3 separate regions of the Homo sapiens genome follow, and regions 2 and 3 are each linked to region 1. The links come from fine-mapping of genetic effects on gene expression. A gene starts in region 1. Each other region holds a variant in brackets. All regions are shown on one strand. Distances are between the middles of the regions. Region 1 holds the start of BLCAP (BLCAP apoptosis inducing factor). Region 2 has its middle 28 kb from the start of NNAT. Region 3 has its middle 40 kb from the start of NNAT.

What was found. PIP is the estimated chance that this variant, and not a neighbour inherited with it, causes the effect.
Region 2: its variant is the best candidate, but not a certain one, in a credible set for the expression of BLCAP in esophagus mucosa (GTEx, PIP 0.52).
Region 3: its variant is the best candidate, but not a certain one, in a credible set for the expression of BLCAP in whole blood (TOPMed, PIP 0.83).

The regions. Positions count from the first base shown.
Region 1 is chr20:37,524,373-37,534,908 of GRCh38, reverse strand. BLCAP (BLCAP apoptosis inducing factor) reads left to right here and starts at 7,033. Exons shown (of 2, transcript NM_006698.4): 1 at 7,033-7,116. It also overlaps the pseudogene PPIAP3. RefSeq lists enhancers at 6,741-7,050, 7,141-7,190, 6,512-7,229, 7,947-8,665.
Region 2 is chr20:37,488,468-37,499,003 of GRCh38, reverse strand. No RefSeq gene overlaps it. Among named protein-coding and RNA genes, the nearest start is that of NNAT, 28 kb to the left of the region's middle. The variant G/T (reference allele first, on the strand shown) is at 7,753.
Region 3 is chr20:37,475,859-37,486,394 of GRCh38, reverse strand. No RefSeq gene overlaps it. Among named protein-coding and RNA genes, the nearest start is that of NNAT, 40 kb to the left of the region's middle. The variant A/G (reference allele first, on the strand shown) is at 3,924.

The DNA of each region.
Region 1 (10,536 bases):
GAGAAGAAGTGGGAAGAGGTGATGGGGAGGTGGAGGCTGGTGTCTGGGTGGTGGTGGCTTGGTCAAGCATGGAGGCAGTGGTGATATAAGAAGATGGGCTAGGTTGTGACTTATTTTGGAGGCAGGGCTGTCAGGACTTGCTGATTGGTTAAATCAGTCAGCCTAAGCTGTGAACTAAGACAGTTCACACAGCTTTCAGTTTCTGGCACATGGTAAGAGCGTGATATATAGTTATTGCTTGTACTATTAATAGGTTGATGGAAGTTTAGTAAGATCAGGCAGTTCCCCATTTTACCATTAGGTGTCACCACAGACCTGGCTAAAATAGCATACTTGCTTCCCATCTGAGAAAGCCCTGAGAAGTGTGGAACAAAAGGGCCTTAGAGTTGGGAACATTTCCCAAGGTCAGGAAAGTAGGTCAGGGATTTAAACCCAGTTGTCCTGACACCTTAAAAGCCATGGTGGGGAGAGGCCCTCCCTGCCAGGGCTCCCACAGTGCCTCCAGTCCCCAGGATAATTTTACATATTTGTAACAATAGGTAATTAAGGGTACTAACTATGTAACCCGTGCTAGTCTTTTATTTTTTGAGATGGAGTTTTGTTCTTGTTGCCCAGGCTGGAATGCAATGGCGTGATCTCTGCTCACTGCAACCTCTGCCTCCTGGATTCAAGTGATTCTCCTGCCTCAGCCTCCCTAGTAGCTGGGATTACAGGCGTGCATCACCACACCCAGCTAATTTTTGTATTTTTAGTAGAGACGGGGTTTCACCATATTGGCCAGGCTGGTCTCGAACTCCTGACCTTAGGTAATCCACCTGCTCTGGCCTCCCAAAGTGCTGGGATTACAGGTGTGAGCCACTGCACCCGGCCAACCAGTGTTATTCTAAGCATTTTATAACACAAACTCATTGAATTCCCACAAATGATCACATGAGGTAGAGTCAAATGTGTCCCCATTTCACAGATGGAGAAACTGAGGGACAGAGAGGTTTATTAACTTGCTCAATGACATACAGCCAGTAAATGTAGAATGGAAATGAACCCTTGCATTCTGGCTGCAGTCTGCGCCATCCTGGAGCTTACTCCATTCTCTGGTCACCTTGGTAATAATGTTTTTTATCCCTTTTAAAATCTTTTGATATCACATAGCTTCTTTAGTGCTTTAACATTTAACTATTGTTCCATTACAGGTAGAATTTCCTGAATATATAAGTATTGGTAAGGAGATAATGTTGATTTTTTTTAAAGTAATTGTCAAGCAGACTGATGTATAGGAAAGTAAGTATTGTGATTTCACAAAACATTGTTCTATTCATAACATAACCATTTCCTGATTCTTTATCATTTAGCCCCAAATTTGCCATCCAGTCCCAACTGAATTCCATAGACCTGGTTACCAGCTGAATCAGAGACTTGGAGGATACATGACAAAGGGAGGAGCTCGGTCTAGCCTTTCAATCATTCACTTATTCATTCAACAGTTACTGCCTCTTCCTTCCTACCAGACCCAAAATGAACCCTGCCCTCCAAGAGCTCACGGTCTCATGGGGGTTAACAGACAGAAAATGCACATGCATTGGCATTGCATAATTGCCCATCTCTCCAGACTGTCTGTAGTGTCTTTTTAGAAAACATATATATATTCTTTTTTTTTTTTTTGAGATAGGGTCTCCCTCTGTCACCCAGGCATTGTCACCAGGCACTGCACCCAGAGTGCAGTGCCATGATCATGACTCACTTGCAGCCTCAACTTCCCGGACTCAAGCAATCCTCCCACTTCAGCCTCCCAAGTAGCTAGGACCACAGATGCGCACCACCACGCCCAGCTAATTTTTTTATTTTTATTTTTTGTAGAGACAAGGTTTCACCATGTCACCCAGGCTGGTCTCAAACTCCTGAGCTCAAGTGATTCACCTGCCTCGGCCTCCCAAAGTGTTGGGATTACAAGCACGAGCCACTGTGCCCAGCTCTTATTCTCTTTTCTATCTTCCATGCCTAGCACAGTGCCTGGCACATTTTAGGTAACCAAAAAATATTTGATGAATGAATGCAAAGGCTTCATGGAGGAGGTGGCATTTGATCTGGGCCTTTAAAGACTGGGGAAGATCTTGACAGATGAGGACAGGGGACAGGGGACACCACCTCAAGAAGAGTGACAAGGTCATTTTACAAAGATCATCCTGGGCCAGGCATGGTGGCTCATTCCTGTAATCCCAGCACTTTGGGAGGCCAGGCAGGCTGATCACCTGAGGTCAGGAGTTTGAGACCAGCCCGTCCAACATGGTGAAACCCACCTCTACTAAAAATACAAAAATTAGCTGGGCTTGGTGGTGTGCACCTGAACTCCCAGCTACTTGGGGAAGCTGAGGTGGGAGGATCGTTTGAACCTGGGAGGCAGAGGTCACAGTGAGCTGAGATCGCACCACTGCACTCCAGCCTGGGCTACAAAGTAAGACTCCGTCTCAAAAAAAAAAAAGAAAAAATCATCCTGGGTGGAAGATGAAGGTTCTGGGTGAGACAGGCAGCAGAGAGACCAGTGAGGAGGTTGCTGCAGGGTTCAGGGGAGAAGGGATGGTGGCCTGGACCAAACTTTGGCAGTGGGGACAGAAAAGGCCTAAAGGAAATTCAGGAGCAATGGGCAAGAGTTGAGGAGTATGGAGCAAGAGGGAGCAGGAGTCATGGGTGACTCCAGGTGTCTGGTGGGTGGGAGCAAGTTGGGGAAGCCTTGGTAGGAAGTTGAGTTTGGCTCAGCAAAATTTTAGGGCAGAATGACCTTCCAGGTCTCTCAAGTCAAAGCCGGTGTTGATGGTGTTTCCACAGCCTGGAACTGAGCTGGGAAGGTGGAGCAATCTTGAGGACAGAGGGGAAAGGGTCCAGCTGAGCAGGAGCGAGTTCCATGTGCATTAGAAGCCCTGCCTCAGCTTCCCCAGTTTTCTGGGCCCCAGGGAGAAAGGGCTGGCCACTGAGGCCTTGTACATGCTAACACTCAGCCTGAAGTTACTGGAAGGTGGTATCCCGCAAAACAGACCTGATCCTTGTTTAGCAGCATGTCACATTCCATGGGATGGCAGGACCCCTTCCTTTCTTCCATTTTTCTTGTTTCTGTTTTTGAGATGGAATCTCGCTCTGTCGCCCAGGCTGGAGTGCAGTGGTGCCATCTTGGCTCACTGCAACCTCCACCTCCCAGGTTCAAGTGATTCTCCTGCCTCAGCCTCCCGGGTAGCTGGGATTACAGGCGCGTGCCACCACACCCAGCTAATTTTTATATTTTTAGTAGAGACAGGGTTTCACCATGTTGGCCAGGCTGGTCTCAAATTCCCGATCTCATGATCCACCTGCCTTGGCCTCCCAAAGTGTTGGGATTACAGGCGTGAGCCACCACACCCAGCCCCTTTCTTCTATTTTTCTTGAGGTATAACATACGTAAAGTATATAAAGCCCCCAGTCTTTTTTCTTTCTTTCTTTCTTTTTCCCCCGAAACAGGGTCTCATTCTGTCGCCCAGACTGGAGAGCAGTGGCACGATCTTGGCTCACTGCAGCCTCTGCCTCCCGAAGTCCCCTAGTCTTATGGTGAATTTTTACTTGATGAATTTTCACTTACATAATCACCAGCCAGAAGAAGATATAATCCTTCCAGCATCCCAGAAAAGCTCCTCTTGCTCCTTTCCCATCCCTACTCCTGACCTGACCCAGGTAACTACCATTTTGATTTCTAACCCTATAGATTAGTTGAGCTTTATATGAATGGATTCATATGGTATGTACTGTTTTGTATCTGGCTTCTTTTAGTCCACATACTATATGTGAGATTAACTGGTGCTATTACATGTAACAGTAGTTTGTTCTTTTATATGTAAAACACAGTATTCCATTGCATGAACATGCCACAATTTATCCATTCTCCAGTGATGGACATTGAACTATTTCCAATTTGAGCTATGAATAAGTCTGCTATGAACATTCTTGCACAAGTCTCCATGTAAACATAGGCACTCATTTCTCTCGGGTACATACCTAGGAGTGGAAATTCTAGATCACAGCATAGGTGTATGTTTAGATTTTGTAGATGCTGGTTTTCCAAAGTGGCTGTACCAATTTGCTCTGCCGTCAGCACTGCAAGAATTTGTTGCTCCACAGCCTCTCAACATTCAGCTCTCTTTTTCTTTTTTTGTTAGTTTTTATTTCATAATCATAAACTCTGCAATCCACCTGGGCATGGAAGGGAACAAGGAAAACATGAAACCCAAAGGGAACTGCAGCGAGAGCACAAAGATTCTAGGATACTGGGAGCAAATGGGGTGGAAGGGTGCTCTCCTGAGCTACAGAAGGAATGGTCTGGTGGTGAAGATAAAACACAAGTCAAACTTATTGGAGTTGTCTACAGTCAGCAATGGTGATCTTCTTGCTGGTCTTGCCATTCCTGGACCCAAAGCGCTCCATGGCCTCCACGATCTTCATGCCTTCTTTCTTCTTTCACCTTGCCAAAGACTACATGCTTGCCATCCAACCACTCAGTCTTGGCAGTGCAGATGACAAACTGGGAACCGTTTGTGTTGGGTCCAGCATTTACCACGGACAAGATGCCAGGACCTGTATGCTTTAGGATGAAGTTCTCATCATCAGATTTCTCCCCACAGATGGACTTGCCACCAGTGCCATTATGGCATGTGAAGTCACCACCCTGACATATAAATCCTGGAATAATTCTGTGAAAGCAGGAAACCTTTTAACCAAATCCTTTCTCTCCAGTGCTCACAGCACGAAAGTTTTCTGCTGTCTTTGGAATCTTGTCTGCAAACAGCTCGAAGGAGTAGGGGCCTAAGGGCGCGTCATCGACAGTGATGTCAAAGAACAAGGTGGGGCTGACCATGGCTGATAGTATGGGGATCCCAGCGGCATCTGCAAAGCCAGCTCTCTCTTTTTCTAAACAAGAGCTTCCACTACAAGACTCCTCTTGTCATTCAGTGTTGGATACTGGGTGTGGCTGCCATGGATGCATTGATCCTTTAGCCTGTAAGCAGCAGGATGGTGGGAGGCCACATTCAGGCCTGTTTTGAGTCTCAGCTGGAGGAGAAATGGACATCTCCTTGCTTTGGATGTGACCTCAGGAACTGGATAGCCATCTTGTGGCCATGAGCATAAACCAGCACAAGGACAGAAGATAAAATGAACCTCAGTCCTTGATGACACTGCCTAGCCACTGAGTGGCAGGCTACTTATTTTTTTAAGCCACTTGATGTAGTTGTGTGTTTAACTTGCAACATAAAAGATACAGTCCACCAACCTTCTTTATTCCCAAACCCCAACGGCTCCATTTCTGTTCTCAACAGCATCAGCCCCACTGAGCACTCCCTCCTTCCTGAAACCTCCTCTCTAGGACCCACACTCACTTGGTCCTCTTTCTACCCCACTGGCCACTGCTTCTTAGTCTCCTTTCCCGGATCCTCCTCTTCTTTTCTCTCCACCTTCTTTCACTTGCGTTCTCACCCAGCACCATGACCTTTGTATTGATGGCCCCCAAATATGTATCTCCTGCCCCAGCCTCCGTTCGCAGCTTCTGTGTCACATAAACCTGCCTACTCACCCTCTCTGCCTGCATGTTGCCCCGACATTTCAAACTTAACTTCTCAAAGCCGAACTTGATCTTCCCCCTCAGTCCGTTCCTCTTTCAGGCTTTATTGTCTTGGTCAAGGAATCTTTTACCCTTTCATTTACTCAAGGCTAAAACCTAGCGAGGAGTTATTGCCAATGCCTCCACATCCACCCAAGTCCAATCTTCCACCCTTCCCTTCACCTCCCCAAGCTACCACCCTGTCTGAGTCAGCATTGGCTTTTGTCTGGAAAGCTGCAACCACCTCCTAACTGGTCTGCCTACACCCACTCCTGAGTGCTTTCCAAGCCATGCGGCCTGGGTGGCCTTTCAGAAATCCTAATTTGCTATCCTCTTCCTGATGAAAATGGCTTCCCTGACTCTCAAGAGAAAAGCCAAATTCAGTATGTAGCTGACCTGTTTTCTTCTGTGCTCACCTCACCCCAACTCTGCCGCTTCCCAGCTCCAGATCTGGGACAAATGTTCTTTCTGCCTAGAACATTTCCCCTCTCACTCTTACCCTAATCGTCCTTTGTTTCTCAACCTAAATGCCATCTTCCCAAGGAGGTTCCACCCTTTCCCTACATTAGTACTCCATTAATTTCTCCTAACACTCTCTACTTCTTCTCACAGCACTTCCCATGATGTGTAATTATGTATTGATTAAAGTCACTAATATACAGTGATTATATGACTGTCTCCCCGCCTACCCGCCATTAGACTGGCAGTGCCTTGAGGTCAGGGACAGACCCAGGTTACCGACTCTACCTGCCCTTAGCACTGCGCTTGGGTACAGTAAGCGCCCAAGGAATATGCTTAATTAGCTAATAAATGACTACACGGACTCATTCAAGCCTCATAAAAGCCCTAAGGTGGGCATTTCAACAGAAGCCGGGTCGGGGTGGGCGAGGGGCTCGCTGGCCCAAGGTACGGGGCAAGTGGGGGAGCCGAGGCCTGACCCAAGGCAGTCCCAAGTTCTGAGCCCGGACCTTTCAGCTCCTGAGCCTTGGCTGCATGATGAAACGCTAGGGAGGGGGTGGACTTTGAGCCACGAGAAGGTTTTCCCGGAGTCCACGGACCATCCACGCGGGCAAGAACGAAGCGGGTTCACCAACATGAACACAACCCGGCCCGCCCAGCGCTCACGGAGTAAGGATCACAATCTGCTGCATATGCATGAGGGGACCCGGCCGCGCTTCGGGGCTGTCCACACTGCGCCTGATAAAAATTATTCGGGCTTGAAGATCTCGGGGCTCCCAGAGTTTTGTAAAAGTGCATACAAAGTCCTCAAAGGTGGTCTGTGGCTGATATTTACGGGAAATGGGGCGAGGATGAGCCCCCACTTCGGACCTTGTGATCAGGCGTTTGCGGTAGACAGCCCGATCCCAGGATGGGTCCTCGGCCGGCTCGACTAGAAGACTAAGGGGGCGTCTCCCCGGCTTCCTGCGGCGTCGGTGGCGAGCTGAGGTGGAGGCAGGCTGCGGCAGACGGCGACAGTGGCGGCGGCGCCATGGCAGGGCTTGCAGGTACCGTGGCGTCAACCTGCTTGGGGCGGGATGAGAGGCCCTCCATGCGGCCGCGCCGCCATATTGTCCCTTCTGGGTCACCTTAGGCGTCGCCGGGTCCCCGTCACTGGGGTTTTCCTTCCGCATACCCCGGGAAGGCAGGGCGCCCCTGTCCGGCTTCAGGTGATTGCCGTGATTGGACCTAGCCTGGGCCTTGGGGGGTCCCTTCCCAGCCCGGAGGTGGGTCATAGTACTCCTGGGTGCTGGCTCTGGCCTTGTCCAAGGTCAGCGCCCTTGCAGGATGAGACAGGCAGAGCCGGGGGCACGGGGCTGGGAGCGCGACCACCATCTCTGCAGCCCCGGGTTCCACGGCAGGGTGCCCAGCTTGTGAGAGGCCTGTCATTCTGTCCCCATCAGTTTAGTTGCGTTGCTTTAGTTGCTTTTTTGGGGGGGAGGTGGGGGGACGTGGGGGTGAGGGGAGAGAGGGTCTCCTGAGGCTCCGCTTCGGTGTCTGGGGTGATAGGCTGACGCTCTGCTAAGAGTCGCGGGCGCTTCTTACTCCCTCCAACTTTACATCAAGGGTGGACATCCCTTCCCTTTCCTTCTATAGACGTGGGGAGTGGCCCTCAAGGGCAGCTGAAGGAACGGAATGCCTGGCGCACTAATGGCCTGGAAAGGAAGCATGGGGGATGGGGGACAGTTGTTTTTTCCTTCCCCTTTCCAAATCTCCTTTAGTTTCCTTCCAGGCCTCCGTGTCCCATTTCATCGCCGAATGTTGGGAGACTGGGGTCTGTCCTCGGAAAGAAACAGCCTTTCTGTTTATAGGTTTGGATCGTCTATCCCTTTCAGGGAACTGGTGTGTTGGGGACGGCTTCTCTGCCCTGCCTGACATGGTCCAGTCATCCCGTCAGCCTTCTGGACGGCAACACCAAAGCTGGGACCAAAAAAAAGTTCCAGCTTAAGTGCTAATGCCAAGTGTTAGATCTTGTTTGCTTGTTTGTTTTAAATCAGAGACTAATTAATGTCAAGCAAATCTGTTAAAAGATTTGATCACGGGAAGCCTGGTCGGTTTCCAGTGACCAGGTCAATTCCATATCTGAAATTAGTCTTGTTAGAGTTGCTGCCAAAAACAGTTTAACCTTTAATCTGTAATATGTTGTTTCAAAGAGGAATCTGGGTTAGACTGTCTTTTTTTGTTGTTGTTCTCCTATCTTTGAAACACATGCATTCCATTTCAAGCCTGTCCCTGTGCGATATACCAAGAACCACGCGTTGCCTGCCTCTCTGACTTCCTGCTCTGGAAATGCTCAGGAATCTGGATCCTGCTGGGGCATGCATGGGCCCTGTGGGAGGGCAAGTCGGGGAGGGGAGGATAAACAGGATCACTCCCAGGGAAGATGGTGACAACGTGTCTCTGGGGCATATAGAGGAAGTCAGAGGTTACCGGGGGGAAAAGAGATTGTTGTTTGACTAGTGTTTTGTGTATGTGCATGAGTGCACACGTTTAAATCTCTGAGGGGGGGTGGGGGCGGTGGGGGGGGGAAGTTAACTGCAAATTCAGAATCTCCCTTTGGGGTGTTGGCTCCTGAGGAGATACACATTTCAAAATAGATATCTAGTAAATGGCTCACAGCAAACCTGCTCCCCGATCCAACAGTAATCCGTTGCCCAAGCTCAAGGAACTTGCCCCTGCCCTTCCCTGACAGCAGACATCCCTTCCTTCAGTGACAATTCAAATATTCCACAGATAAAGGTAACAGTGTCACATAGCACCCTGCACCCCTAAAAGTCATGGTACCTAAACACCTCTGGACTTAACTTCAGTTCGTTAGGCTAAGAAACTAACATCCTGGAGTATTAGTCTCAAGGGTCTCTCACCTGTTGCTGGAGTCCCACAGAGCTATTCCCAATTCCTTCCCAACCGATCTGCTCTGTCCTTGGCCTTGTGGGGGCAAAGTCTTCTGGGAGCAATGATGGTTTAGGCAAAGGGGACGTTCAGCACTGTGACTAAGGGCTGTGCAGTAAAACACTAGTCATTTTCAATTCTTCGCATTGCTCTCTATCAGAATAAAATGTTTAATGGTATAGTTTGTGGAAAAAATTTTATAAACAAGGTGTGTTTGGACCATCTAGGCATTGCATGGCATTGCACTGGATGGAAAGTGAATGCACTGTCTTCTCTGGTGGGTTAAGTTTGCTGCCAGAACATGAAGTTTTGTGGGTGGAGGATGCAAATGGGGAGTGGACATTGCACATTGAAGCCCACACGTGCAGGTGCAGGCCACCAGGGCAGCCCTTGCCTGGAAATCTGTCATCTCACCTTGCCACACTCACAGCCCTGCTGATGGACGGATGGAGGAAAAGGGCTTTGCCAAGATGATATGGAAAGCTCTGGGGCTACCAGGAGCCTCTTGTCCTCTAAGTGGGGGCACAAGAGGTGCTGTGTCCAGAGCAGCCAGCTCTTACCATGCTGCTTTGGCCTACCTCCCTGAAATCTGCTACCTTGTCACTTGGGCTGAGGTTAGAGCATCAAGAAGGGCAGTGGGGCTATGGGCATACCCCTCAAAAGCTCCGAAGGGAGGGTCAGCCTTCATGGAGAACACATGTTGGTATGTTCATGATTCTGTGGGTTTAGTGTGGAAAACCACAGAAACTCCCAGTTTTGAGGCCTGCCAAGATATGGGGTTCAGAAGGGAGGAGGTGTGGGCATTGCCTGCTGATGAGTCACACTGGGGCGAGAGGAGACCTGCCTCACCTTCAGGCTATGGTAGCAGCTATAGCCACCCAGCCTAAGAAAGATGAAGTCTCAGATTGCACATCCTCTTCAAGTCCTGATGAGTCCTGATTGCCACTGCTATGGCAGTTTCTAGCGTGTTAGGGTTCACTGGCATCTCAAAGGCCCTCTTCGAGAGGGAAACTGGAGATGAAGGGTACAAGGTGACATGTCCAGGTTCCCTAGGCTGATTGATGGCAAAGTCAAGACCAGAACCGGGATCTGCACCTCCCCACCCCTATAATTCTCTGATACCGAATGAAGTTTTAGATGCCTTTAGAGGTGCTGGTGATTGGGCTAAGAAACTTAAGGGCTTGCTTAGGGGAGGGAAACATGATCAGGCTTAAGGGGGCAAGGTACTTTGTGCTTCAGAAGTATTTGTGACAGCTGTGACTAAGGGATTCGAAGAAGTGGCAGGAAGAGAGATTTATGGCCCTCCAACTCCCTCCCTTGGTGTTGACCCAGCAACAGGTGTGTAGTGACAGGGACACATAAAGCCAGAGACAAGGCTGAACAGGCGGCAGGGCCATTTGGTGAGACAGTCAGCTGACCCCGTGTAGAAAGAGCCCTGACTCACTGGGGAGTGGGAGAGGAAGACAAGTCCGAGGCCGAGCACTGCCCACCCTGACGTGATGGCAGGGGAGAGCCCAGGGCCACGGACCTGGTAA
Region 2 (10,536 bases), 36 kb after region 1:
TCTTCCTACCACGGCACATTGCTCTATTCTCAATTCAGGTCATCTTTTACATCTTTCAGGACAGTTTTATGGTTTTCTCTGGTTAAAGTCTGACATATTTCTTGTTGAATTCATTCCTAGGTATATTATAGGTTTTGCTGTTAACTGTGAATAGGTTGCCCTCTGCTCTTATTTGTTTGGCCCTTGTTTTTTCATATCCCATTTCAACCTGTTTACTAATCACTGTGCTTGATTCACAGACACACACAAAGTAAACGTTCTCCCTCTCTGGGCACAAAAATTTGAGCACAGCCAGACGCACAGAGGCAGCATAATTGGCTGAAAACAAATTAGAATCTTTTCAAATTATACTTTAATTAAACAAGTAAAGTGTGCATACATTCTCCTTTTTAAAAGTAGGACAATATGAATATAACTGTAGTCCCCTTTGGCCACCCTCTGGAGTCCTCATTTCCCACCCCCTCCACAGTTTTATGTATCTCCATCCATAGTAACACATAGTCCTGATGTATTTTCAATGAGTCATACCACATTATAGCGATTTTACTATAAGCTGCAGGTTTTTTTCACTCAGTGTTACATTTTTACAATATACTCCTATTGCTACACATAGCTTGCTTTTGCCTTTAATAGCTATGTTGTATTCATTCCCATGAATGTACCACATTTTATCTTCTGTAAGCTCCATGGACATTTAATTGCTTCTTTTTCTTTCCTCCATCATGAGCAGTGCTGCAGAAACCACATTGCATGTTCCTTTGTGGTGGGATATCTCTGGGAGTGATTGGGAAATGGAATGTTGGGTCTTAATATGTCCACAGTTTTAGTTTTAGCAGATACTACCACTGTCCTCCATGATTTCTGTACCATTTAAGCTTCCAGCCAGAGGGTATGAGAGGGCTGTAATCCCCACACCCATAGGCGGTTGTTTTAAATATTTGCCAATCTCATGGGTGAAAAATTGAATCCTTTTTAAAATTTGTATTTTCCTGTTTGCTTGTGAGATTTTCATATGTATATTGAGCATTTGTATTTTCTCTTTTCTGAATTGCCTGTTATTTTTTCTCATTTTAAGCATTAGGTTGTCTTTATCCCACTGGCTTGTGGAGTTTTGTAATATAATCTGGATATTGATCTTTTGTAGATATGTGACAAATATTTTCTTCCAGCTTGTCATTGCCTTTAACTCTTTGTAGAATCTTTTGTTAGAAGTTATTAGTTTTGACATAATCCAATTTATCAATCTTTTCCTTTGATCCTTTTTTATACAGATACCATGTTTAGTCCTTCCCTACTCCTAAGATTTAAATATATTATTTCTTCTTTTCTAATAATTTTATAATTTTGTTTTTATTTGGTTCTTTATGCATCTGGAATATATTTTGATTATCATATTGATATATGATCTAACCTTTCTCCAAACGGGCAGCCAATTATTGCAGTATGAGGGGTTGACTAGTTCTTCCTTTCCCCTCTGACCTGAAGTAAAACTCCCTGATATTCTGAGTCAGGTGTGTCTGAAGCCCCTGTTTTTCCCAACAATCCATTTATTCCTTTCAGTACAAGACTGTTTTCTTTGCTGTCCCACCTTTTGGTATCTGTGAAGTCAAATGCCATGTTTCGTTGTGCTTCCTTCTCAGCTCTCTTAGCTAACTAGTACCGCACACTAACTCCTCCACATGAATTGTAAAGCCAGCTTGTCAAGTTGGAGAAATTGACATCAATACAATACCGAGCCTTTGAATTCATGAATACAGTAGAGCTCTACGTTTATTCTTATTATCTTGTATGTCCTTCACTCATGCACTGTTGTTCTCCCCATAAAGAACTTGCCCATTTCCTAATGGGTTTATTCCTATACTTTTTATTATTGTTGTGAATTAGTTTTCTCCAGCCCCCTTTTTTGTTTTGCTTTTGCTTGCTACATTTCTTTTTCATCTGCTTACTAATCACTCTACTTCATTCACAGGCACACACAAAGTAAATATTCCTCCTCCCTGGGCACAAACATGCAAGCACATCCAAACACACGGAGCCCACGTTATTGGCTGAAAATAAATAGTAATTTTTTAAAAAATTGAAGTCGAATGACACAAGCAAAACATGAATACGTTCCCCTTTTTTAAAAAAGAGAACATTGCAGATGAAGCTGGAGTCCCTTTTGGCCACCCACTGCCACCCTATTCCCTTCCTCCTCTCCAGAGGTAACCACAGTAATGGGCTCAATGTGGACTTTTCTAGACGTTTCTAAAAACTTACATATATAGATACCCAGAGGAAATATATGGTATACTTAAATAATGAAAATGTTATCTTTCTAGTTTTCATTAATATTCAACTTTTGTATTGACCTGAATTTTATTATGGTTGCAGAATAGAATGTCAACATTATCATCTGTCACAATGTGAAAGTAAAGATATAAAAGTTGGGAGGTAGCAGTGAAGGGAAGAGGGTAGGAAGGTTGACAGGGACAATAGTGGGGAGGCAAGAGCTTCTGTGGACATGTGGTAGAATAAGGAATGAAGGGGCAAGTAGGTTTCTTAAAAAGATAACCAACAGAGGTACTTAAAGACTGTGTTAGGAGAGGTAGGGATAGAGGGGAGTAGTTTCCAAGTGACCCAATGCCTAATCCACTGGGACATCAGTGGATCTTATGAACTAGAAATGGGGTGTAGCAGATGCTGTCTAGAGGGCTCCCATGACCCAGTTTTGACTTGGGACTTGTAAGGGGATATCTTCAGGCAGTTTCAGGGAAACACTTTCCTCCCTAATTAAAGAGATGCATGTGGGGCCAGGCACAGTGGCTGTCGCCTTGTAGTCCCAGCACTTTGGGAGGTTGAGGCGGGCAGACTGCTTGAGCCTAGGAGTTCGAGACTAGCCTGGGCAACATTGTGAAGCCCCATCTCTACAAAAAATACAAAAGTTAACCAGGCGTGGTGGCATGCACCTGTGGTCCCAGCTGCTCAAGAGGCTGAGGTGAGGAGATTGCTTTAGCTTGGGAGGTTGAGGCTTCAGTGAGCTACTACCATGCCATTCTACTCCAGCCTGGGTGGCAGAGTGAGACCGTGTCTCGAAAAAAGAAAAGAAAAAGAGGGATGCACTTGGAGAAGTTTCTTGGCTGCCCCCTTTCTTTCTGCCTAGGTGCTGTTGAGTGAAAACATAGTGCTTGGAGCCCTGACAGCTATCTATCTTGTGACCAGGAGGGGAAGGCCAGGAGACTCATGGTTCTCTGTTCACTCAGATCTCAGATACCTGGAACCACTGACTTTTGAACTTTTCATTACTTGAAATAAATGTTCTTGTTGCTTAGCCACTTTTAGGTGATATATTACGTTCTGGTGAAAGCATTCTTCCTAATACAAGCTGAGAGCTTACAGCTAGGAGACAACCTCCAGGAGCAGAGATCACACACTCTCGGGTAAGAGTTTGGGGTTGGGAGAGGGTCCATCCCGAACTTGCTGCTCTTCATCAAAAGCCCTTCTATTCTCTTGGATTAAAAAAAAAAATTCTGATAAGCCAGGCACATCATGCACCTGTATTCCCACCTACCTGGGAGGCTGAGGCAGGAGGATCACTTGAGCCCAGGAGCTCAAGGCTGCAGTGCGCTGTGATTGTGCCTGTGAATAGCCACTGCATTCCAGCCTGGTCAGCAGAACCAGGCACTGTCCCTAAAAACAAACAATTCTGATAACAAGTGTGTCAAGATGTGAACAGTGGTTGCCTCTGGGTACATTTGGATACTTTGCAGTTTTCTAAGATGTTGTCAAATGTTCTTAGGAGCTGACACATAAGAGAAGCTAAGTTTTGACTCCAGAAAAGGAAAGGCCCACAGCTGGTGAGACTGCCCAGGTGAAATCCTAGATGGATTCAAGGGGCGTTAGAGCTGGGGATGAGGAGCAAGCTGTGGGTGGATCTCACCTCACCTGATCCTGGAGGGCCAGCAACCTTCCTGGGTTCTTAAGGGAACTGCAGGGAGTCCAGCCGATTTGAGACACACAGGGTTGGGGGCATGGGTGTGGCAGGAGGGAGATCAGTGACAGATCAGGCTGGCTGCACCTGCAGTGCTGCTGTGTCATGACAAGAAGTGAGCTTCTATCCAAGGGTAATGAGGAACCAGTGGCCGTTTTTTCTTTTGTTTTGCTTTTTAATGGACGGAGTCTCACTCTGTTGCCCAGGCTGGAGTGCAGTGGCATGATCTCGGCTCACTGCAATGTCTGCCTCCCAGGTCAGCGATTCTCCTGCCTCAGCCTCCCGAGTAGATGGGATTACAGGCGTGTGCCACCACGCCCAGTTAATTTTTATATTTTTAGTACAGACAGGATTTCACCATGTTGGCCAGGATGGTCTCGAACCCCTGACCTCAGGTGATCTGCCCATCTTGGCCTCTCAAAGTGCTGGGATCACAGGCGTGAGCCACCATGCCTGGCCGTGGCTGTTCTTAAGCAGGGAGACAGGTGTGATCACTTTCATTTAGTTAAGTTTCTTTGCCAGTGGAAGAAGCTCAACTGAAACCAGCTCAGGCACAGAAGGAACTTAATTGGCTTCTATACGCAAACCACAGGCCAAGCTAGGTTCAGTTGACCTTCCGGTCCCCCGGGGCCAGGGACTTAACTGGCAGCCTGCCCCTCTCCCATCTCCATGTCTCCACGTCTCTTTGCCTGCCAGCTCCCTCTCTCAGGGATGCCTCTTCCACACACTGGCGTTCGTGACTGCCAATGTTTCACACCTCTCAGGTTCATGACCACAAAGAGATCGAGGTAGGAGCGCAGGAACTTGGTTAAGCATCAGGGCTACTTGCTTACTCATTGTTTTGTCTAATTTCTCTGTCTTCAGTGTCCTCACATAGGAAATGGGGATAACAACAGCACCAGCTTAATGCTGTGAGGGTCAAAGGAGATGATGTCCATCAAGTACTTACCTCGGGGATGGACACTAAGTGCTCCATACATGTTATGAGCTCTCTCTGTTCCCAAGTCCAGAAATCTAGACAAAAGCTTCCATTGGCCCAGTTGAGTTGGGGTTCACCTCTGGCAAATCAATGATGGCCATTAAAGTGGGTTGTGCAATAAATGAGAAGGTGAATTTCAAAGCAAATAGGTTGGGGTGCAGAATGATTTCCAAGAAGGATTGGCGCAGTTCTAGAAAAAGAACAGAGGTCATCCCTCTGGCTGCCAGCAGAAAAGGGTTTGATCAGGCCCCAACAGCCTGGAGGTAGGGAAGTACCTAAGAGGCACCACAGTTGTCCAGGTGAGAAATAACGCAGGTCTGAGCTAAGCAACAGTGCAGATGGAGAGAAGGCGGAGGCAAGAGAAGTTTTGGAGGTAGAAATAGGGGGCATGGTGCCAAGTGCACGGGAGAGATGAGACAGAATGAAAGGTTGAAGGTGGCCCCAGGTGCTAGCCCAGAAACCTACAAACAGAGCCTCTCCAAAATGTTGCTTCATTACTCAGGTTAACTCTTCCCAACACCACTGCCACTCCATTCTGCTCAGTAGCACAAACTTAGTTGAAGGTAAACCCAGCCACATCTGGACATTTCAAAAGACTATCTTAAGTAGATTCTTGGTCCACTTCCAGCTCCTCTGCTTCCCACTGCTCCTTCTCCTTGTGGGTAGTCAGTGTTCTGGGAGCTTCTATTCTGACCTGGCACCAGGGGCATACAAGTGATTCAGGTCTGCCAGCAACTATCCACTGCCATCCACTGAGCCACAGAATCCCTACTAAATCTTTGTCCTGACCATGAGGCACCTCCAAGTCCACCGGCTACACTCACCCTCTTCTCTACACCCTCACCATCACCACCGTGTTACAAAGACAAACAGGACCCTGGAGGACACCTCCCAGCCACCTTCTCCCACCAGGGGTCCTCAGCCTCTCTCCAGCCCATGCCAGGAGCTTGTGTTCTCTCAGGCAACACCTGAGGAGCCAGGCAACAGTCCCTTCTGCTCTGGGATACCTCAAATTTACTCTGGGAGCTCTAGTATCTACTATGAGCTACATCTCTTTGTGATTCCTTTATTCCCACTAGCTGGTCAAACTTTTATTTCCTTTTAGGCAGAAAAACAGCTTCTGTATTCTTCCCTGTTTACCATTCTGGCATCAATTTCAAGTGCTCAGTCCCTCAAGCTCTTTCCTCTTTACAAAAGCCCGGCTACTGCAACAAAGCATCCTGTCTGCTGTAAGTTTCAAGAGACTCTTTGAAACTACTGACCATCTTTCTCACTGCATTCATGCTGCAACAACCCAAATCCTGCAAAGCTCTGACTGAATCAGGAAAAAGTGACCTTGGTAGCTAGTCTCCAAAGATGGCCACCACCAATACTTGCCTTCCTGCGATATATATCATACTCCTTGTATCAGGAAGAGAAGTGTAATTCCCTCCCCATGAATCTAGGCTGGCCTTAGTGACTTTCTTGGCCAATAGAATATAGCAGAAGGCACATTCTGGGATTTGTAAGACTAGGTCGCAGGAAGCCTTATGGCCTCTGCCAGGCCTCTTGCAATGCTTGGCCTTGGAACACTCCCTCCTACAAGCCAGCTGCCATGCTATGAGAAGTGCAGGTCCTGTGGTAAATCCACATGTGGTCACTCCAGTCAACGGTCTCAGCAAGCCCCCAGCTGACTGTCAACTATGTGAATGAGCCTGCAGATGACTCCAGCCCCAGCTGCCATCTGACTGCAGCTGCATGAAACACTTAAGCAAGAACCACCTTGCTGAGCCCTATCAACCCCGGAACCATGAGGAATAATAAACTGTTTTTGTTTTTGTTGTTGTTGTTTTTGAGACAGGGTCTTTCTGTGTCATCTAGCCGGAGTACAGTGGCACAATCATGGCTCAATGCAGCGTCGGACCTCCTAAGCTCAGGCAATCCTCCCACTTCAGCCTCCCAAGTGGCTGCAACTATAGGCGTGCACCACTACACTTGGCTAATTTTTGTATTTTTGATAGAGATGGGGCTTCCCCATATTGTCCAGCCTGGTCTCAAACTCCTGAGCTCAAGTAATTTGCCTGCCTCGGCCTCCCGAAGTGCTGGGATTACAGGTGTGAGCCACTGCACCTGGCCAATAAATTGTGTTTGTAAGCCACTAATGTTTGGTGTAGTTTGTTGTGCACCAACATGGTGATGGGCAAGGAAGTGTGGTGGGGGGTGGGGAAGCACATCAAATAATATATAAAATATGATCCTACTACACAGCATTTAAATGGACCATCATAGTACAGTATGGTAAGTGCAGTAACGAAACATAAATATGCACAGAACTTTCCAGAAGAGGTGACCATTGGTCTTAGGGTGACTTATCTCCTTAGAGATGAGCAGGAATGAGCAAGCTAGAAGGAACTGGAAAGACCTTTTAAACAGAGGGAACAGCACAAGCATAGCCTTGGGAATGAGGAGCAGCAGGAGTGAGCTGGAGGGTATTTGGTGTTCCTGGACTATGACAAAAGAAGGAGGGGATGGGAAGAGCAAGATGAAGTGGACAGAGACCAGACCCTGCAGAGCCTTGGATGCCCCCATGTCAAGGAGTTTGGACACTGTCCTGCAGTCACTGGGCACTGTTGAAAGTTTTTACACTAGAGTGATGCATTCAGATTTGTTATTTGGGAAGACCACTGAGATGGTCAGTGTGAAGACTATATTTGGAAGAAGATAGTCTCTAGGCAGGGAGACCAATTTAGAAAATAAAGTCAGAAATGCATAAGGATTGTTGGCTGTTGGGGTGAGAGAGAGGGTAGAACCAAGGGTGATTCTC[G/T]TGTGTCTTTGGGTTCCTTGGCAGATGGTGAGGAGGTGCTTGAGATGGGGAACACAGCATGGTAGCCAGTTTGGGTGGGGGGAATGGGCTCAGTCTCAGAGAAGTAGAGATGAGGGGCCGGGGGTACAGCCAGGAGGAGGTTAGCAGACAGCTGGATGCCAGAGCTGGGACTCAGGAAGAAATCTGACTGGAGGGACCAACCTGGGGACAGAAGTTAATGGGACTCCAGGAATGAGCAAGACCATCAGGCAGAGAGTGTAGAGGGAAGATGGGAGGTGGAGAGTGTAGAGGGAAGATGGGAGAGAGCTCATAGCATCATGAGTCCCGGAGACATGTGAGGGGCTGACGGAGGTGTGGGTGGGTGACAAAGGAGAGAGGAAAAGGAAGGACCTGAGCAATGAGACAAATAACTAGGAGAGGAGGTTGCCATAGCAACCAAGATAGGGAAGAGTTTCAGGGAGAAAGTAATCACCACAGCTCGATGCCCCGAATCTCAGAAAAATAAGAAGCAGAAAGTCCTTTGAATCCAGCAATCGGGGGCTCCTATGAACCTTGGCAGGAACTGTTTTGGGGGCAAAGGGGTAAAAGCTAGCTTCCCCAGGGTCAACGGACTGAATAGGTGGAGGAGTGGCAGAACCTTCCTTAGAGAAGGTTGGATGACTAGGGAAGGAGTTGAATGGTAGCAAGAAAAATGTGAGCGATCAAGGGAGGGTTTTTGAAAACAGGAGAAACCCTAGAATTTCCTGGTCTTGAAAGAGGATGAGGATGAAAAGAAGAAAGACTTGTAAGTGAGCTGGGATCTATCCTCTGAGCCCGGCTGAAAGGAAACAAGTGGGTCTGATTGGAGATGTCTCAAGGGAAGAGAGCAAAGCATGGAAAAGACCTTTGTGGTGCACTTTCTGATCCTGAAAAAGTTAAAATTGATTATCAAATTCTGTAGGGTGGTTAAGAAAGGAAAAGGGTGCATTGAAATGAGTAGCTAGGAGGTCATTTGGTGACTGGTCCGGATAGCCTTTGCTGTCCCCTCCAAGAGCCATACTCTATCCTCCATCCTGTTCTGTGCCTGGGAGGCCAACCTTAATACTACCCAGACTCCATGCCTTCTGGCTTCTATAGAGGGTCCCTGACTTATGATGGTTCAACTTACAAGTTTTCAACTTTATAATGGGTGTACTGGGGGTATTAAAGCATTTAATGGGCCTGGCACAGTGGCTCAAGACTGTAAGTAATCCCAGCACTTTGGGAGGCCGAGGCAGGCGGATCACTGGAGGCCAGAAATTCAAGACCAGCCTGGCCAACACGGAGAAACCCCATCTCTACTGAAAATACAAAAATTAGGTGGGTGTGGTGGCGCATGCCTGTAGGCTCAGCTACTTGGGAGATTGAGGCACTAGAATCGCTTGAACCCGGGAGATGGAGGTTGCATTGAGCCAAGATCACTCCATTGCACTCCAGCCTGGGCGATAATGTGAGACTCTGTCTCAAAATAAAACAAAATAAAAGCATTTAATGACATGATATTTTTGACTTACAGTGGGTTAATTTGGATGTAGCCCCATCATAAGTCAAGAAGCATCTGTAGTTGAGTGTGACCAATGGAGGAAACAAGGAGACGCTGGAGAGAGGGAGGAGAGTGAGCTTCTCTGGCCACCTTCCTTTGGCTGTGGGTTGGCAGTGTCTGCATTCCTTTTCGTATGGCCACAGGTGGGGTCTCTTTCTGAAAGCAGCAGCTTTCTCTCCAGGTTCCGAAAGCCCATATCCTTCTCTCATCTCTTCAAACCTAGAAGTGTGATAGCTTCCAGCTGTTGCTCATCCCTGGGTGCTTGATCAACCCTGGAGCCTGCTACACTCTGTGAATGGTCCTTTCATTAAATTAGCTTCACTTTAATCCTTTGGAATGCACTGTCTCTCTCCCCTACCAGGTCCCCGGCTGAGTAAGTGAACTTGTCTAAGCTCTCTGGCCTTCACAGTGGGAGGGTACACAATGGTGAGCAAAAACAGCCCTAGGCCTTGCCTGTGTAGAGCTGCCACACCAGTGGGGGAGCCAGATGTTAATCAAGCCAGTAAAGAGACCGGGCACCATGGCTCACGCCTGTAATCCCAGCACTTTGGGAGGCCGAAGTGGAAGGATCACTTGAGGCTAGGAGTTCCAGACCAGTCTGGGCAGCATAGTGAGATGTCGTCTCTACTAAAAATCAAAAAAATTAGCCGAGTGTGGTGGCACGCACCTGTAGTCCCAGCTACTTGGGAGGCTGAGATGGGAGGATCACTTGAGCCTGGGAGATGAGGCTGTAGTGAGCTATGATTGTAGCTATGATGTAGAGAGCTACTGCACTCTAGCCTAGGTGACAGAGCAAGACTCTGTCTCAAAAAAAATTATTAAAAAAAAAAGTAAAGAAGTCCATAATTGTAAACTGTGATAGGTGGCATGGAGGAACCCTGCTATATCAGAGAACTAACATTCAACCAGGGGCATGGAGGTTAATGAGGATGAGAAGGACACATGAAGAAACAGCAGGGGTGAAGCTCCATGGAAGGAGGGTGGCATGTTCCAGGAGCCAGAAGGCCATTAGGGCTGAGGCACTTATCAGCAAAGGTGATTTTGACACAAGTGGCAGAAAACCTAACTCAAAAATGTTTAAACAGTGAGACATTTATTGTCACATATAATGAGAAGTCCCAAGGGAGACAAATGTAATGTCATTAAGGACCCATGTTCTGTCCATCCTTCAGTTCTCCCAAGCTCAGCATATGGGCTCCTGTCCCCACAGTCACAGGATGGCA
Region 3 (10,536 bases), 49 kb after region 1:
AATCCCAGAGCTCCAGGGCCCCTCTCACTGCCCTGCCCTGCTCTTCCAACTGGGCTTGTACTGCTTCCTCCCTCCCATGTCTCCTGGAAGAATCAGCTCCTTCCTGGACCTGCTGCCTGCTCCAACCCTCCTCCCTCCTTTCTCAGCCAGACCCAGTTCATTCCCCCAACACCAACAGGGGCTTCTGCCCCTTGCCCCAAAGTTGCTGTGACAAAAGTCCCCAAAGGCCAGGTCTAGGAGATGCCTGAGCCTCCACTGACCTCTGTGCATGTGGCCCACCAGTGGCCACTCTCTTTCTGGAAATGTTCCTTCATGGGCTTCTGGGACTCTCTTTCCCTGTCTTCCCCTCTTTCTCAGGCTCCCCTCCCCCTGTCCAATGCTGGTGCTGCCCAGGGCTCAGACTCCAGCCTTCCCTCTCACTGTGCACCTTTTCCCTCAACTTCATGCATCCTTGAAGCTTTGCCTCTCTCCTAGAGGCTGATTCCCAAAACTGATAGTCCACACTGGGCTCCTTTAAGCTCCAGTCCAACACACCCATCTTCCTCTCTACATCTTCTTCCAGATCCAGCCCTGATCTCTCGTCTGAGCTCCAGAACCTGATGGCCAACCATCTCAGACATCAACAACATATCCCAAATGAAATTCTTGGTTTGTTATTTTTTCACTTCATTATGCTCTTTAATTCAAATTCCTAATCTTTCTTCTGCAAATTTGTTCTTGACTGATGTCTCCTATTTTGGGAGACACTTAGCGGTCCCCTAGAATCTCTGCCTTCTTCTCTTGCAACATCTCATGGAAAGGTCAGTTGATCTTACCTCCTAACCAACTCCATCATCATGACCAATGGCTCAGTCCAAGCCGTCATCTCTTGCTTGGTCACTGCAGGTACTTGCTAACTTTCTTCCCAATAATCCAACCCCCACAGAGCAGCCAGAGTAGCCTTTTTTTGTTTTGTTTTGTTTTGTTTTGTTTTGTTTTTGAGACGGAGTCTTGCTCTGTCGCCCAGGCTGGCATGCAGTACTGCGATCTTGGCTCACTGAAACTTCTGCCTCCCAGGTTCAAGCGATTCTCCTGCCTCAGCCTCCTGAGTAGCTGGAATTACGGGCGTGTGCCACCACACCCAGCTAATTTTTGTATTTTTAGTAGAGATGGGGTTTGACCGTGTTGGTCAGACTGGTCTCGAACTCCTGACCTCAGGTGATCCGGCCGCCTCAGCCTCCCAAAGTGCTGGGATTACAGGCATGAGCCACCGCACCCGACCCATAAGCAAATTCTTCTAGTCCTCCAGTGCACCAAGCTCATTCCTCTCTTAGAGCTTTGGCTCCCATTGCTCCTCATACCTGGAAACCACTTTCCCACCACCCTCTTCTCAGACTTTTGGGCTCAGCTTAAATGTTTCCCAAGAGAGACCCTCCCCAACCACCCATCTAAAGTGGGGCTCCTACCCCATGCTCTCCCTCACATTCTGTTTGCTTCCTCCACAGCCTTTGCAATCACTTCTTTGGCAACTGCCTTTTCCTCTGTTTTAGAGGACTCTCCCCTAATAGACTGTAAGCTCCTTGAAGGCTGTTTCTTCAGAGACAATTTCTACCCTGGCTGCTCTTTTATCCCTGGCACCTAGCACACATTTGTTGAGTGAAGAATAAGGCTGTATTGACATTCTCTATCTCACGTGGTCTTGACAACCCCATTTCACAGAAAAGGAAGCTGAGATGTCCCAAGACAAAGTAGCGTGGGGAGGGCCCAACACAGTGCATGACTGGCAGGGATGTGGCTCAAAGCCATATCTCCTGACCGTGCCTCCAAGATTTCAGGATTGAGTGCACCACTGGCCTGCCCCTATGGAGCACAACAATACCATGTGATCTCCAGGGAGAGGAGGTAGCTAGAAAAACATGTATTGTGTAAAAAAGTCATGCTATGGGAAATTCAAGGTTAGATTACCAAAAGGGAAATTGGGTGTGGGAGTTAGATGCTTGGGGAAGTGATCTGATATGAAACAGAGATTTCAAGGGTTCTAACCCTAACAGACATTGCAGAATAAAACAAAACAAAATAACCATTATTTTGTAACAGAAAGAAAGACATCTCAATGAAACAGAATAGAAAGCCCAGATGCAGATCCCTAGAATGTCTAATTCTATGACTTATGAGAGCAGAGGCACTGCAAATGAATGGGGGCAGGCAGGGGGAATGAAGTGATTTGTCACTTAGTGAGGCTGGAAAATTATTTTATCTATTTCAGAAACGAAAAGCAATTATTTATCTCTCTTTATACCAACCACCAACATCAATGTCCTGTGATTTATTTAAATTTTTTTCAATTTTTTTTTTGTCTTCTTTACTTTTTAATTGATGTCATCTTTTCAGTAAGTGTCAGGTGATTTTTTTTTTTTTTTTTTTTTTAGACAGAGCTTCACTCTTGTTGCCCAGGCTGGAGTGCAATGGCATGATCTTGGCTCACTGTAACCCCTGCCTCCTGGGTTCAAGTGGTTCTCCTGCCTCAGCCTCCCAAGTAGCTGGGATTACAAGCACCCGCCACCATACCCGGCTAATTTTTTTGTATTTTTAGTAGAGACAGGGTTTCGCCATGTTGGCCCGGCTGGTCTTGAACTCCTGACTTCAGGTGATCCGCCTACCTCAGCCTCCCAAAGTGCTGGGATTATGGGCATGAGCCACCATGTCCGGCCATGTCAGATGATTTAAATGCAAAAAAAAAAAAAAAAAAAAGAAAGCATAGTAATAACTAGAAAAAACTGGAAATGATTCATTATCCAAACTATGGTCGAGGAAGGCCATTGTAGCATTTACAGCAATACAGAGAACTGTGCTGGAAAATATAAATATAATTGACTATAGGAAATGTAAAGCTTCTGTGTGTTGGAAATTCTCATAAATAAAACATTCACAGAGGCAGTAAGAATTTTCATAATGAAACATTGGGGTGATAAAAGGCTGTAAGAGCCCATTTATGAAAGATGAAGTTCAAAAGTCAAATTCAGTTGAAAATGTTGAACTTACTCATAATAAAATAAATGTAAATTTGAATGCAGGGATACCACTTTTGGCCCATCGAATGAGTACTTTACAAAGCAAGAGCTCACAGAGCTCATTCAGCCCCGGTGGCATGGGCCCTCTCTTGCACAGCTGGCAGGACTGTGAAGTGGCAAAATCTTTCTACAAGGCAATTTGTTTAAGATGTGTGAAGAGCCTCAAAAAGGTTCGTACTGTTTGACTCAGTAATTCCATTTGCAGGAAGCTCATCCCAAGAAGTGCTCTAAAGCAATGCCCAAAGATTTCTGCAGAAAGATGTGCACTGTGGCTTTAGGTGTCATAGCAAAAAAGAAAAAAGGAAGTTATCAAAATCTTCAGCTCCAGGAGAACAGTTAACCAAATTATGTTCCATTCATTAACTGGATTATTAGGCAGCCATTAAACATAATAATTACAAAGGAAGTTGACTAATATGGGGAGATGTTTAGCATATAATCAATGGAAAAGGATGGTGCAAAATTACATACAATGAAAGCATCTATTGTAAATAAATGCATTAAAAAGGCTAAGAAGAGATGTGCTTTTCCGGCGCATTTTTACAGAACTTGACAATGGATGTTGGGATTCTTGTCAAGATGTTTTAGTTCTTCATGACTTACTTCTCTCCAAATTTTCTGCCATATTTGGATATCGCTGTTTTTATGATAATATATTTCATTTTTCCCTTATTTATTTTGCTTAGACTGTTAGAGAAATATGATAATATATTTCAAAAGTGCAGAAGAGAACAAGAATAACATAATGAATACAATATACTCACCATCTAACCAATATAATGAATACAATATACTCATCCATCCATGTATTTCTTTTTACAATAGAAAAAGAAGAAAAAAATAAGAGCTAGGTCTTAAGGAAACGGTACCTGC[A/G]TCAGGCAATTTTTGAAGGGGTGAGGGCTTGGAGGGGTTGGGCAGGAAAGGAAAGAAAATGGTTCTGCATGAGGAGGCTGCCTGGGTGGGCCTTCTTCAAAAAACCTCAGAGCTAAAGAACAGGGAGGGAGCTTCAGGCTCCTGGTGACCAATGTCCATCATTTGAAATGCCCTTTCTAGTATATGGCAAATTCCCTCTGGACACAGGTCAAATCCTGAGCTCCTCAGTTCTGTAGGTCAGTGTGTCTATCCCTGTGCCATTGCCACACTGTTTAATCCTTTTGTTGCTTTGTCGTATGCTACCTAGTAGGGCAAATCCAGTCCTTTTTCCCCTACTGTGTTCCACCACTTGTTTTTCTTTCTCAAAATTATCTTGGCTATTCTTGCCCATCTCCTGTACCATATGACTTTTAGAATCAGCTTATTAAGTTCCATTAAAACATCCTAGTGGGATTTTGATGGGAAGACATTGAATTTCTAAATTAATTTTGAGAGAATTGACATCTTTACAATATCAAATGTTCAGGACCCTAACATTTTAAGGGTGGTTGAGTCAGAGGTTCTGATTAATGAGACTGGGAAGGAAAAGTCGTCATAGAGATGGGTTAAAAACAAGGAGAGGGTGTTGTCATGGAAACCAAGAGAGCCCAGCATTTCGAGAAGGCGAGAGTGATCAACAATATCAAACCCTGCAGAGAATTCCAATAAGACAGGGTTGGAAAAACACCCACTCAAGTTGGTAATTAGGAGGTTATCGGAGCCTTCAGCAAGAGCAGTTTCAGGGGTGTGATGGAGCAGAACCCCGACTGCAGTGCCTGAGGATGATAGATAGTCAGTGAAGACAGCCCTTTTACAGAAGTTTAGATAATTAAGTTTTGATAATTAGAAAAGTTTAGAGAAAGATTGTCTGGGAGCTCGAAAGTGAGATGTGGAGTCAAGAGAAAGTTTTCAACTCAATTCCACACATATTTTTTGAGCACCTCTTGTGTGCTGGCTAGTTGTTGATGAGACCATGTGAAAAAGACAGACACACATCCCTGCCCATGTGGAGCTTATTGTCTAAAAGGGGCTCCTGTTGCTTCCCCTAAAAGGGGAAACAGATGTGAATTAATTACATGAATAAAAGGATAATTAGCAACACTGATACTCATGAAGGACAAGTGTGTGGTGCTGAAAACAGTGAGGAGACCCCCAGAAGGGATCTGAAAGATGAGTGGGTATCAACCAGGCTAGGAGGAATCAGAAAGAGCATTCCAGGCAGAGGAAACAGCCCAGACAAAGGCCCAGCAGTGGGAGGGGCAGAGTGTGTTCTGGGAGGGGAAGAAAGCCAGTAAGGCTGGAACACAGTGGATGAGGGGAAGCAGGGTAAAAAATCTGAATGGAAGAGCCAGCCAGCTGGAAAGGTTTGGGGCTTTATTCCAAGAATGCTGGGGAGTCTTTGGAGACATTTAAGCATGGCAATGACTTGTTCCAATTTGCATGTTGAAAGTATCACTCTGGGCTGGGCACCGTGGCTCATGCCTGTAATCCCAGCACTTTGGGACACTGAGGTGGGTGGATCACCTGAGGTCAGGAGTTCGAGACCAGCCTCGCCAACAAGGCAAAACCCCATCTCTACTAAAAAAAATACCAAAAAAAAAAAAATTAGCTGGGCGTGGTGGCACATGCCTGTTAACCCCAGCTACTCAGGAGGCTGAGGCAGGAGAATCACTTGAACCTGGGAGATGGAGAACGCAGTGAGCTGAGACCATGCCATTGCTCTCCAGCCTGGATGACAGAGTGAGACTCTGTCAGAAAGAGGAAGGAAAGAAGGAAAGAAGGAAAGAGGGAGGGAGGGAGGGAAGGAAGGAAGGAAGGAAGGAAGGAAAGAAGGAAGGAAGGAAGGAAGGAAGGAAGGAAGGAAGGAAGGAAGGAAGGAAGGAAGGAAAATGAAAGAATGAAAGGAAGGAAGGAAAACGAAAGAATGAAAGGAAGGAATGAAGGAAAGAAGGAAGGAACGAAGGAAGGAAGGAGGGAAGGAAGGAAAGAAGGAATCACTCTGGCTTCTAGCGAGGAAGCGATGGCAGGAGTGCAGGAGGGGGTGGAGCTGAAGAGAACTGGAAGGGCCCAGGAGCCACTGGGAGATGAAGTCTCCAGGCTTGAGGCTGGACTGTGGAGGTAGGTGGTGAGAGCCAGTGAGCTGTGGAGGAAGATGCCAGGCGTCTCCTGGGTCTACTGGCTGGTGGCATCTCTCCATGAGATGTGGGACTCTGGTGAAGCACCATATTTGGATGAGAAGAGTTGTCTGTTGAGTCAGTTGAGCATGAGGTGCCTTTGGGACTTGTGGCTTCTGGAGTCCATAGGAGAACTTGGGCTGGAATTGGACATTGCAGAGGCTTTGGGTCCAAGCCGGGGTGGAGGCGGTGTTGAAGCAGCTCAGAGATGGGTGAGATTAAGGAACAGAGTGCAGAGGAATGAGCAGATGACAGAGGCTGAGCCCAGGCGAGCACTCGGGTTCAGGTGGCTGGGTAAGGGAAGAGGACACCAAGAAGGAAGGACCAGAGAGGAAAGCAGCAGGGGGGACTCCCTGGGGCCCATGGAAGAGAGTTTCCAAAAGGACACAGTGGCAGTGGCAGGGAGCTCAGGGGAGGTAAAAGTTGATTGGTGACCCTGGACTTGGCCTTCAGGGCCGTTTGTCAGTTTTTCGGGGATGCGGAGGGGTGGGTCAGGAGCAAGGTTGATACAGGGTCTATCTGTCAAGAGAGGAGAGTCAACAAAGGGGGGCAGAATTTTTTGCTTCATTTTGGTTTTAATAAAAGGGCAACATTTGCATATTAATTTTCCCAAAGGAAGGTACCTGTGGGATATGAGTTACTGTGGAGCAGAGGCAATTAGCTAAATGAGGCCTCCAAGGAAATGAGGCCACATGGACGAGAGGGATCCACCCTGGCGGTAACACACATCCAACCTCCTGGGACAGCGCTCGATTGGCCTTTTACTGAGTAATCTGCGTCCCACTTTCTGTCTGGGAACTTGTATATGACCTTTGTGTTTTAACTGTGTCTCCCTTTGGCAGGAATTTCATCCCACTCCATGGCCAGGACCCTGTCTCATTCGTTTTGGAATCCTCCCCAGTCTGGAGCAGCCAACTGGGGCTGTTGAACAAATATTTTCTGATTTGAAATAAAATGTCTGAAATGGGAGGTCAAAAATTTTTAGCCAAAAAGAGTTTGTGATTATCGAAACAAACAAATTCCGTGTGTTTGCTTAATTTTGCACGGCAGAGTGAAGGAGGGGCCAGGAGAGTTGGAGGAGAAGGTTGTGTGGTTGGCATCCTTGTCATGCAGGGATGATGGGGTATGGGACAGGAGGTCTGCTCAGGAGGGAGAACCAGGATCACCCACCCCAGCGTGGGCACAGGACTTCACAGTTTACACAGTTGAGTCAGAGCTAAGTTTTATATGATCCTCACAAACCCCACGAGGCTGACAGGGATTCCACGGAGAAGCAAAGCAGGAAAATGAGACTCTGCACAGGGCACTAGCTGTGGAAGGCCTCAGGGCACGCTAGTGGCAGGTAGCGGACTCAACCTCTGTGCCTCTTGCCTCTGACTCCAGCGTCCCAGCCCCTCTACATCCCAGAGTGAGCTCCAACTAGGTTCATGTCCAGAACTTGACTTCGGGGGGAATCTAGTCCACAATCAGAAGTCAAAGTTATGAAAGATGAAAGCGGAGTTTGCAGGTCATGAGGAGAAGGCATTCACCAGAAGGCTGTCTGGAGTGGGAGGTTTGACCAGCCTTCCCAGCTAGCAAAATATAACCCAAAACTACATCAATGAGATGACAGTGGCAGGGTGCAGGTCCAAGCTCCAGGACTCAGGGAAAGGCGACTTGTGTGTGATGGGCGTGAATGCCACAGTGTCAACAGGACACATAGACTGCTCTGCTCTGCCTGGCAGGATCTTGCCTCTTCTGGTCCCTCCTCACTTCCTGGTAACCACAGGCTCTGTCTCCCCGAATTTGGCAAACCCTAGCTTCCCTGGGTCGGCAAGCTCACTCTTGGCCCCAACCAAGCCCAGACACCCTCCAGTGCCAGCTCGGCTCCACAAGGCTGCTCAGGGAATTCTGCTGCCTTTGCTCCCCTTGATGTAACCACCAGGTTAGACTTAAGGCTTCTGCTCTGGAATCCCCCAGACTTGTCTGGGACCCCATCATATTCCCCCTTGGGATTCAGTTCAGGGACTGGAAGATGAGCCTTTTCTGGGGGATCCAGCCAGTACTAATATTCTGCTTGAATTTCCTTGGATTTCTCTCCTTCTGCCCACAGGTTGAACTCTTACCCCCTTCAAGGGGCTCAGGCTCCACCATCATCGTGAACTGTCTTTTCCATCTATTGTCTATGCATAAGCTCTTTGCCTCTTCCTTTAGCTTTAACTCCAAATCCTCCAAGCTTTGTAGAATCTAGAATGCTTCCTTTCTCAAGTCCCAGCTCTTGTCCTGAAAAGCTATGGCTTTCATTCCTGTAGACTCCCCTGTGGACAATAGTCCACACAATTGTGGTTTGTGCTACAGATTCACAAAAGCCCACAGAGGAGCTCAAAGGCCAAGCCAGGGACTCTATGTAATGTCAGCACCCCAAAAACCATGCACCCAGGAAGCTTGGACAGTGGGGCGAAGAATGAGGGTGGAGGATATTAAACCCATACACAGTATAACAGAAAAATATTACCATACTCCACAGAGCTAAGAAGGGACACCATGAAGCAGTGAAGAAAGAAGGGCTTAGTTAATAAATGGTGTTGGAACGATCGCTAAGCTATTTGGAAAAGCAAATCCACTCATTCTTCACTTCATGTCATACATCAGCATCAAGTTCAGATGGATTAAAGATTTAAATTAAAAATCACACTTGAATAAAGTAGAAGTGAATATTCACCCCAAACTCTCAGTGAGCCTTCTAAGCTTAAAAGCAAGGGAAGCAATCACAAAGAAAATAAGAAGAAAATAGATTAAAAATTTTAGATTTAACTGTGTGGAAATTGAAAACAACTTCCGAGGATGTCACGCAGAGGGTTAATATCCTTGGTGTTTAAGAATCCATACAAATTGAGTTTTAAAAATTCAAATCACTGCTGGGTAAGTGTGAAGGGATGAACACTCAATTAACAGAAGATTAATTTTTTATGGCTCATAGGTTGAACCCATTTTCCAATATCTAATTATTTTTTAAAAAGTAAATTAAAACAACAGTGAGATAACACATTTTGCCCATCACAGAGTGAAGAAAAAAATTTTAATGAGAATACCCCATGCTGGCTAGGGTGTGATGAAACAGACAATACTGCTGATGGGAATGTAAATTACCACAGCCTTTGACCCAGTAATTACACTTATGGTGCTCCATCAGAAGGAAATAATCTCAAATCGACAAAGATTTATGTACAAAGAGATGTAGTATGCCCTTGTTTCTAATAAAAAATGGAAGCAACCCAAAAAACCAACTATAGAGGAAATGTTAAGCAAATCATTTTATATCCACTCAAATGGACAATTATTCATCCACTAATTGTATTTTTACAAAAAGCTCGAAAATTCTTATAATATAAAAAGTGGAGCAGCAACTGAGAAGCCAGGGTGCAAATTATATGCAGGATATAATCTCAGCTGTGGAAAACAGAAAAGAACATCCAAATAAAGACTGGGAGGAAGTGCACTGGGACCCTGAACCTAAGGGCACAGGGCTCAGGATGGGTCAGCTTTGATGGGGGAAAGAGAAATAAATGGAAGATGCTCAAGTGGGGTCCTGGGTGTAGTCTCACATAAAAAACAACTTCATATCTGGAGGAGAGGGGGAATGGAGTCTTGCTTCAGCCTGGCTGTCTGATCCAGCCTGCCCTAAAGCTCCAAGAAAGAATTGCCCTGGGCATTGAGCTCAAGGAATTGCCATTCAGTGTGTACATCCAGAGCACAGGGCACCATGAGGGGCCAGAAAGGAAAAGGGTTGGGAATCAGGCCAGGAAGTTCATGCAGGCCCTTTGAGCCATGCTAGGGAGTTTAGGACTTTTATCCCAAGAGCAATGAGGAGCCATTGAAGGTCTTTAAGCTTCACCTTTCAAATAGATTACAATATTAGCAGGGTCTCCCTTCTTTGCAATACCAAAAACCCAACTCTAACTCAGGCATAAAAATATAAGTAAAAAATAAAAGGGTAAAACCAAAATGATAAAACTTCTAGGATAAAACATATAAGAGAACAACCTTCATAACCTTGGGTCAGGCAAAAATTTCTTAGCCACAACACCATAAAAGAACGAAATGATAAAAGCATGATTCATGAAGCAATAAATTGATCAACTGGACTCCATCAAATTTTTTTTAAGTATGCTCTTTTAATTGCTGAGAGAATGAAGGGACGAACAACAAACTGGGAGAAAACATTTGCAAATCATATATCTGATAAAGAACTTGTATCCAGAATATTTATAAAGGAGTCTTAAAACTCAATGATTAAAAAAAAAAACAACCCAATAAGAAATGAGCAAAAGATTTGAACAAACACTTCCCCAAAGAAGATAAACAGATGGCAAATTAACATACAAAAAGATGCTCAACATCTTGGACTTAATCTTGTAGGC